Regions from separate parts of the Homo sapiens genome. Here region 1 is linked to region 2. A link means that fine-mapping ties the variant in region 2 to the expression of a gene that starts in the linked region. Tissue or cell type: testis. Region 2 holds a variant in brackets; the other region holds the start of a gene. All regions are shown on one strand. Distances are between the middles of the regions.

The links. PIP is the estimated chance that this variant, and not a neighbour inherited with it, causes the effect.
Region 1: OPRD1 starts here. The variant in region 2 is the best candidate, but not a certain one, in a credible set for the expression of OPRD1 in testis (GTEx, PIP 0.61).

What each region holds. Positions count from the first base shown.
Region 1 is chr1:28,810,382-28,814,580 of GRCh38, reverse strand. It overlaps OPRD1 (opioid receptor delta 1), which reads right to left and starts at 2,411. Exons shown (of 3, transcript NM_000911.4): 1 at 1,971-2,411. The coding sequence starts at 2,197.
Region 2 is chr1:28,891,393-28,895,591 of GRCh38, reverse strand. It overlaps a transcript of EPB41 not described here. Among named protein-coding and RNA genes, the nearest start is that of EPB41, 21 kb to the left of the region's middle. The variant T/C (reference allele first, on the strand shown) is at 2,349.

The DNA.
Region 1 (4,199 bases), 81 kb after region 2:
ACCGACGCTCGGCTTTTTCCAGACTTGGGCACCTGGAGCTCCCCTAGACAGGGCAGGTGCCAGGAATCCGGAGCTCTCAGAATCACAGCTACTCTCAGGCCCACCTTAGGACAAGCACCTCCCTCAAGCTCCCTTCTTTAGTCAGATTCTACAGGATCTAGAAAATCCCTCCGCCTCGCTATACAGACAGCGTCCATTTACTGGGTCCAGGCGCCAGGCCAGTGCGTTATGTGCTCTCTCACTGACACCTCACAACAACCCTGTGGAAGAAGATTTATCATTACGTCATTCTACAGATGAAGAAACTGAGGCTCAAAGAGGCTAAGTGATTCATCCAAGTCACAGAGCCAGTTCGTGGCAGAGCAGGGATTCATACCAGGCCGGCCTGCCTCGAAGCCTGCGAAGTGGGGAGAATCACTGACAAAGACACAAAGTAAAGATCAGTCCCGCCTGTGCTTGGGGGGAATTCTCCCACTGTTGCTTGTGATGAGTCATGGAAAGCACAGGAAATTCTTGTACCCGCCACTCTTTCTGGAGGAGCAAAGATCTCCCAGAGATCATCAATGCCGAAGCCCACTGACACCCACACACCTCATCCCATGCTCCAACACACCACGTTCTGCGCTGCAGAGACCCCATACCCTGGAATTCATACTTTCCAATTGAGGAGATTAGGTCTGTATTCTTCGAACAGGGAAACTGAGGCGGATGGGAGGCAGGGCAGGAAGAATGATGCCTGGGCATCCATGACTAGGCTGAGACTACAGTTCATCTCTCTAACCTCTGAGTCCACGACCTGACCTATGCCCTGCATGGTGGCACCCACAGCCCAGAGAGGTTTAGGGCCATGTCCTTGGTCCACCAGCATGAAGGACCCATTTTCAACTAACAGCAAATACGAGGGCATCTTTGTTGTTTTAAAGATGGAAATTTTCCTCTCAACCCTTACTGGCCATGTCTGAGCTTGTGGGGCTGTATCAGGAGGGCTACTTCTGGGGCAAGCTGACGTCTTAGGCTCTCTGAGAAGGTCCCAGCACTCTCCATAAACTCCAAGAAGAGCACCTCACTTCCTGGGATGAAAACTCAAAATCCACTCCCGCCCAGACCAACCTCTGCTGCCTCTGGCAGAAGAAAAGACTGTTAGAGGAGGCAAAGAGAAAATGGGAGAGGGCATTTGTGAGGAGGGCGTGAGTCTTCTCTGAATCCTATTCAGAATTCCTGACCAGATGGGCACTGGCGAAGGGAACAGAGAACCGGTTGGCGGCCCACAGCTGTCGCCCATGTTATCCAGGAATCACTGGCAAAGGCACACACAGCTGCACAAACACAGGGACGACGGCCACTCCGGATGCTCTGCCGCCCTCGGGGTTTCAAGAGCTTGACAAGAAACAACAGTCACATTGTTACATTCAGACAGAATCACAAACTGACCGTTAGGGACAAGCTCACACCAACAGATGAGCACCAAATATGACTTGGTAAGGGCCCCACGGCGAGGTGCTGACACCCAGCACCCTCCTGTCCGCCCTGCCTGCACGGTGCCCTCACACCGGTCTCCCCAAAGGCCCGCGGCACCTCAGAGCAGCTCTGCCCACCCCATGGGCATGTTTCCGACGTCCAAACATACAGTTGTACTGTCACAACCATCCACTCACAAACTGTGACAGACACACAAACTGACGCCAAACTGTCCCACAAAGAAGCAAGGGGATGCCAACAGATGATCAAATGTAATTTAGTCAACCGCGGCGCACTCCCCCCCCCGCACCACACACACACATACACACGATGACACACATTCCTGTGTTCCCCTCGATGTAAGTGGCCTCGCCTCTCGCTGGGCCCCAGGTGCCCCTGCAGGAAATGCGGAGGCGCGGGGAGTCCAGGGAACGGGCTTGGGGTCTCAAGTTCGTGATCCCCACCCTCACCCCGGGCTCCAGCCCTGCGGCGCCGGCCCGCAGCGGACTCACCGGACGATGCCGAACATGACAAGCACGTTGCCCAGCAGCCCCACGGCGCACACGGCCGAGTAGAGCGCGGTGATGGCGATTGCCAGGGCGAGGGACGAGGCGCTCCGCGCGCCTGGCGGCCCCGACGCATTGGCGCCAGCGCTGGGGCAGGCGCTAGGGTAGGCGTCCGAGGCGTTGGCGAAGAGCGGGGGCTGCAGCTCGGCGCCGGCGGAGGGGGCCGGTTCCATGGCTGCCGGCCGGCTCCGCCGCGTCCCTCTCCACCGTGCGCCCTGGGCGCGGGGATCCGACGCGAGGGGAGCGGCAAGGCAGAGGCCGCGGCCCCGACGCCGCCGGCTGCCGCGCCCCGGCCGCCCCGCTGTCTCTGCGCCTCGTCCGCCTGCCTCGCCGCCCGCACCGGCCCAGCCCCCGGCGTCCGCCCGCTCTCCTCGCCCGGAGCGCTGTGAGCCAGGAGCAGCCGCAGGCTCCTCGGACGCGCCCGCCGCGCGCACCACGTGGCCCGGAGGCGGCCGCCAGTCTGCGCCCGCGACCGGGGGCGGACGCTGCACCACCGGCTCGGAGCTGGGCAGGGGAGGCCTCCCGCCCCCTCCCTAGGGATGCTCCGCCGGCTCGAGTGCGACCCCGTCCCAACCTGGACTCCCCTCCCACCCCCTTGCCACTTTGGTGTCAGAGGGACCTGGGTGTGGATCCCGCCTCCCGCCCCTGCACTAACAGGCGGAGTGACCTTGTGTAAGTCACTTAACCTCCCTCAGCTTCATTCTCTTTGTCTGTGAGATGAGGAAAATCGTACCACCTCCCTCAGAGGGTGGTTGGGGAGATTGAATAAAATGATTCGAACAAAGAGCTTAGAGCAGTGCCCTGCGGACAGTTACATGCTCCGTAAATAACCTATATTATCCGTGCCTTTCTTGCACCCCATTCATTCGCTCAACAAAAATTCTGAGGGTGCCTAATAGAAGAGCCGGGTATTTGGGGGGACCCTCTAGTACACAAAACCAGATGCAGCCTCTGCTTCCTGGGGCTTACAGCCCAGTGCAGGAGAGAGAGCGAGCAACCCTAAAATGACATTAAGATATAGGTACGAATTGAGAAAGTGGCAGGGTCTACAAAACCCAGGGGTCAGGACAGCTTCCCTGGGGAAACGACACTTGAGGTGAGGTGTGAAGTTTGGGGAAGAACTAACTTAAGGAAGTAACAAGGGAAGAGGATTCCGGATAAAGGAAGCAGAGGGACTGAAAGGAAGCCAGGAAGAGGAGAAGGCAGGAAGTGAGGGGGCGATGAGGTGGTGGGCAGGCTCTTGAAGACCACCTTAAGGAGCACTCTGGCTGCAGTGCGAGCAGATAGAAGGGGGGCACTTGGCTAAGTCATCCTTGCCACACCCCTTCCAAGACCTAACCATTCCAGATTAGAGCCATCCTTCTTCTTGGGGTGCCTAGCCTTTCCAGAACATTCTACCAAGCATTACTTTGCTCCAGGCACTGTGATAAGCACTTTATCCATGCACCAACACTTTGGTGTAGCTTCTATTATTATTGTCCCCATGTTACAGATTTAGTGCTCAGCACTAAATTATCCCATATAGTAATTATTTCTATCCGAACTGGTCTCCCTCCTTAAAGGGACCAGGTCTGATTGACCCCTGCATCCAGGAGAGGGCTGGGGTCACAGCAGGTGCTCAAGAAATACTTTTTGGATAATAAAGATCCCAAAGGGAACTGGAGTGGAACAATATTAGGGGTTCTGAGCTCTAGGCTCTGGGGCAATGCTCTTGGATCTGTGTGTGGCTGGACAAGGAGCTCTCCCTCATCTCACCCTCTAGCTTGAATCATCCATATATGTGCAAGGCTCCTACCCTTTCCCAGAAAAAAGCAAAGCCAGAATTCCCAAGCTCACCCTCTTCTCCATTTTCTCCACCCCACTTAGCTGCTGTCCAGCCACTTCTACCAACTACAGCAAGCCCCCCACCCCAGGGCTTTCCCACTCAACCACCTAAGGACTTATCAGAAAGATTTTTGCTGTGGTCACCTGCTGCCAAAACTCTCTCCCTTTCCCAAAGGGCCTGGTACTCAGAAACTTTTCTAGTGCCAGCAGAGAGAAATTGGGATAGGAAGAAGGAGGGCTACTTTATTGGAATTCTGGTCCCCTCCCTAACCCTCCAAGCCAAGTTTTTTCCTACCTCAGGACATTTGTACATGCTATTCCTTCCACTCGGAAGGCTGGGCCAATACCCCA
Region 2 (4,199 bases):
CTTGAACCCAGGAGGTGGAGGTTGCAGTGAGCCGAGATGGCACCACTGCACTCCAGCCTGGGTGACAGAGTGAGACTCCATCCAAAAAAAAATAATAATAATAATTTGGGCCCTGGAGTGAGCAGGCTTGGGTCTGAGCCCCAGCTGTACCCCTAAAGAACTGTGGGATTCTGGGTGACTCACTTGACTTACCCAGTGCCATGAAGCGGGGATAATAATGCCTGCTTCAGAGGGTCTCCTAGGTCACTAGGAGGAATGCATGAGATAATGTGTCTAAAATAGCATATAACCAGCCCAGCCCATAAGAAATAGCCAATAAATGGCAATAATACACATGATGACTAGTGAGTCCCAGGCTCCCTGGGCCACAGTGGGATGTAATTCTTCAGGGCCCTCCCTAGAGTCACCTCAGCCAGAGCCAAATAGCATTATGGATAATAATGCCTAATCCACCTATTTTCTAATTAAACAATTCTTCAAGGGAGGTGTCTTTTAATAACCCTACTTTACAGGTAAGGCAACCGAGGCAGAGAAGGGGTTACAGAACCAAGTCACACAGCGAGAGTGGCAGAGCTGGAACCTCCACTCAGCTCCTCCCACACCAGGCAGAGCCCAGCCCTTATCCCAGGGCCCTGGCCAGTCTGCTGGGAAGTTCAGGGGCTCCTTGGATTCCAGTCCCAGCTGGGTGAGCAGTTAAAAGTAGGAGAAAAAAGCCAGAAAGAGGAACACATAGTCCCCTCCCAGAATCCCAGAATGAGCCCAGGGCTGGGAAGTTACCAAATGGGGCCCTGTGTGGGCTCTTCTCATCAACTCCTTCCCACACCTATGCGGGGAAAGTGTTGTGATATGTACATCACAGATGAGGTCTCCAAGACTCAGGGAAGAGCATGCCTTGTCCAGGGTCACACCTGGACAAGGAAAAGTGGCAGTACTAGAAGGCAGAGTCCCTCCCCATCCCTCCCATTTCTGCCCCAGATCTTCCCAGCTGCCTCTCTCTTCTGATGAAAACTAGAGGCTCTGTCACTCCCTCTCCAGGAAGTCCAGTTGCCAGGCCCCTCTCTGTGCTGATTGATACATGCTTGGTACTTGGCCCCTTACTAAGTTCAGAAGACCCAGAGCTCACTTTACCAGAGCCCTGATCCCCAAGAAAGTCACAGTCTATTGAGCAAATAGGGAATTCACATTCACTGAGCCCCTATCATGCTGGGCCCTTTATATCCATTAGCCATTTAATCCAATACAAAGCACATTGATAGGTATACCATAAACAGTCAATAAATATCTTCATTCCTTTGGAAACATTCAGTGAGCACCTACTACGTGCTACTATACCCTAGGCGCTGAAGATACAGCACCTGGTGAACAGATGAACAAAAATCCCTGCCCTTGTGGGGCTTACATGAATAAAAGAACAAATATACTTGTGTCCCATAAGTATTCATATTCTTATTTTGCAGACGTGAAACTGAGATGCAAAGAATCACCCACCTGTATGCAACAGAAAAAGGATTCTATTCCAGCCCAGTCTGCCCCAAAGACCTTTGCATTGTATCATGTGACCAAAAAATCAGCACCCAGTGTGTTTAATTGGTAGGCCCTGCTTATGGTAGGATCCTAAAATCACAGAGTGCCCTCTCTCAGCATTTCCACCCCTACCCCCGGGCCTCTCTTTACGCCTCCCAGTGGCCTCAGAGCCACAGGACATGCATTAAAATCAGCTCATGTGGCAGTCATTAAGTCAAACCATTACTCACCCAGAAGCAGCCGTCGGGGTCACGCAGCCAGTCCAGGAGAGGCCATGGAGCCATCACCGCAGTGGCACATGGAAGCAAATGACAGCAGTGAGACACACAGCACAGCCAAAGAAAAAGCCCTTTGGGTCCCCTTCTTCAGCCAGGGCCTGAGCCAGGAGGGAACCCTGCCCTCCCTCTGCCTCTGGGGTCTTGCTGGGGCAGACGCCCTAGTCAGCAATAATCTGATAATCCACCCTCAGCTCATCAGGCCTCCAGGGCCCAGCCCACTAGAGGCAGCAGCGTCCCTGTGAACAAACATTAACTGAGCACCTGCTGTGTGCCAGGTGTTGGGGATACAGCCTGAAGAAGACAGACATGGCCCCTGTACTTATGGAGCTTACAATGCAGTGAGGAGACAATCATGTAAATAACTACTGAATTACAACTGTGATGATTGTGTCAAGGAGGAGACTTTAAGAACCTGGGCCAGCCGGGCACGGTGCCTCACACCTATAATCCCAGCACTTTGGGAGGCTGAGGTGGGAGTTTTGCTTGAGCTCAGGAGTTCAAGACCAGCCTAGGCAACATGGGGAAACCCCATCTCTACAAAAAATA[T/C]GAAAATTAGGTGTGTGTGGTGGAGTCCCACCTACTCAGGAGGCTTAGGTAGGAGGCTCCCTTGAGCCCAGGAGGTCAAGGCTGAAGTGAGCCGTGATCACCCCATTGTACTCTAACCTGGGCGACAGAGTGAGACCCTATCTCAGAATAAAAGAACCTGACACTTGTAATCCCAGCACTTTGGGAGGCCGAGGCAGGCAAATCACTTGAAGCCAGGAGTTTGAGACCAGCCTGGCCAACATGGTGAAACTCCGTCTCTCCAAAAATACAAAATTAGCCTGGCATGGTGGTGGGTGCCTATAATCCCAGCTACTCAGGAGGCTAAGGCACAAGAATTGCTTGAACCTGGGAGGCAGAGGTTGCAGTGAGCCAAGATCGCACCACTACACTCCAGCCTGGACAACAGAGTAAGATTCTGTCTCAAAAAAAAAAAAAAAAAAAAAAAAGAACCTGGGAAAATCCTGACTTCACTATTTATGGCTCTACCTTTTGTGACATTGGGGCCATTTGTTTTGTTTTGTTTTGTTTATTTGTTTGTTTGTTTGAGACAGAGTTTCCCTCTTGTTGCCCAGGCTGGAGTGCAATGGCGCAACCTCCGCCTCCTTGGTTCAAGCGATTCTCCTGTCTCAGCCTCCCAAGTAGCTGGGATTATAGGCGCATGCCACCGTGTATTTTTGTATTTTTAGTAGAGATGGGGTTTCATCGTATTAGTCAGGCTGGTCTCAAACTCCTGACCTCAGGTGATCTACCCACCTCAGCCTCCCAAAGTGCTGGGATTATAGGCTTGAGCCACCACGCCTGGCCTCGTTTTTACTTGTCTATGCCTCATTTATTCATCTGCAAACTGGAGATAATATTAGTATCCACCTCACAGGGTTGATGTGAGGATTAACATGGGTCAATACATGTAACACGTCTGGAAGGATGCTTGGCACACAGTAAACCATTCAGAAGCGTTTGCTACTATCATTACAGGGGCTGTTGGCATGGGTTTTGGAGGGACCCAGCATGGGTGAGGGGTACCACCTACCTGACAAAGTTGCTGTAGGGGGTTAATGATACAATGAGAGGTGAAGTTGAGTACAATGCCTGGTACCGGCAACTGTGCAATAAATGGTGGTGTTATTCTTTTTTTTTTTTTTTTTTTTTTGAGATGCAGTCTTGTTCTTATTGCCCAGGCTGGAGTGCAGTGGCACGATCTTGGCTCACTGCAACCTCCGCCTCCTCGGTTCAAGTGATTCTCCTGCCTCAGCATCCCGAGTAGCTGGGATTATAGACGCCTGCCACCAACCATGCCCAGCTAATTTTTTGTATTTTTAGTAGAGACGGGGTTTCACCGTGTTAGCCAGGCTGTGTCGAACTCCTGATCTCAGGTGACCCGCCCACCTTGGCCTCCCAAAATGCTGGGATTACAGGTGTGAGCCACCATGCCCGGCCGGTGGTGTTATTCTTAGGGCTTCTCTCCAGCACAACTCCTGGATAAAGCATCTCAACAGAGGAGCTGTCAGAAATGCTCCCACCACCACAAACACAAACCCGGAACTGCAGCTTTGGACTGAAAAATGACCAGCAACCACATTCTCACCTGATTTTACAAATGCCTCATCTCCTTTAACCTTCACAACAACCCAGGAAGTGGACAAAGGAGAAATTGTTACTATTCCCACTTTAAAGATGAGGACAGTTAGGTGAAGGGACTCTCGTGTGTCCTCAGGGGTGCCACTTCACACCTCCAAGCCTAGTTAAGTGGCCAACCCAGGATTCTAGCTCATATCTGCCTGGATTTTGTTCTCCGGGTTTTCCCTTGGTTTATTTCCCTTCAGTCTCTGGGGTACTGGCTGAACAGCCCCA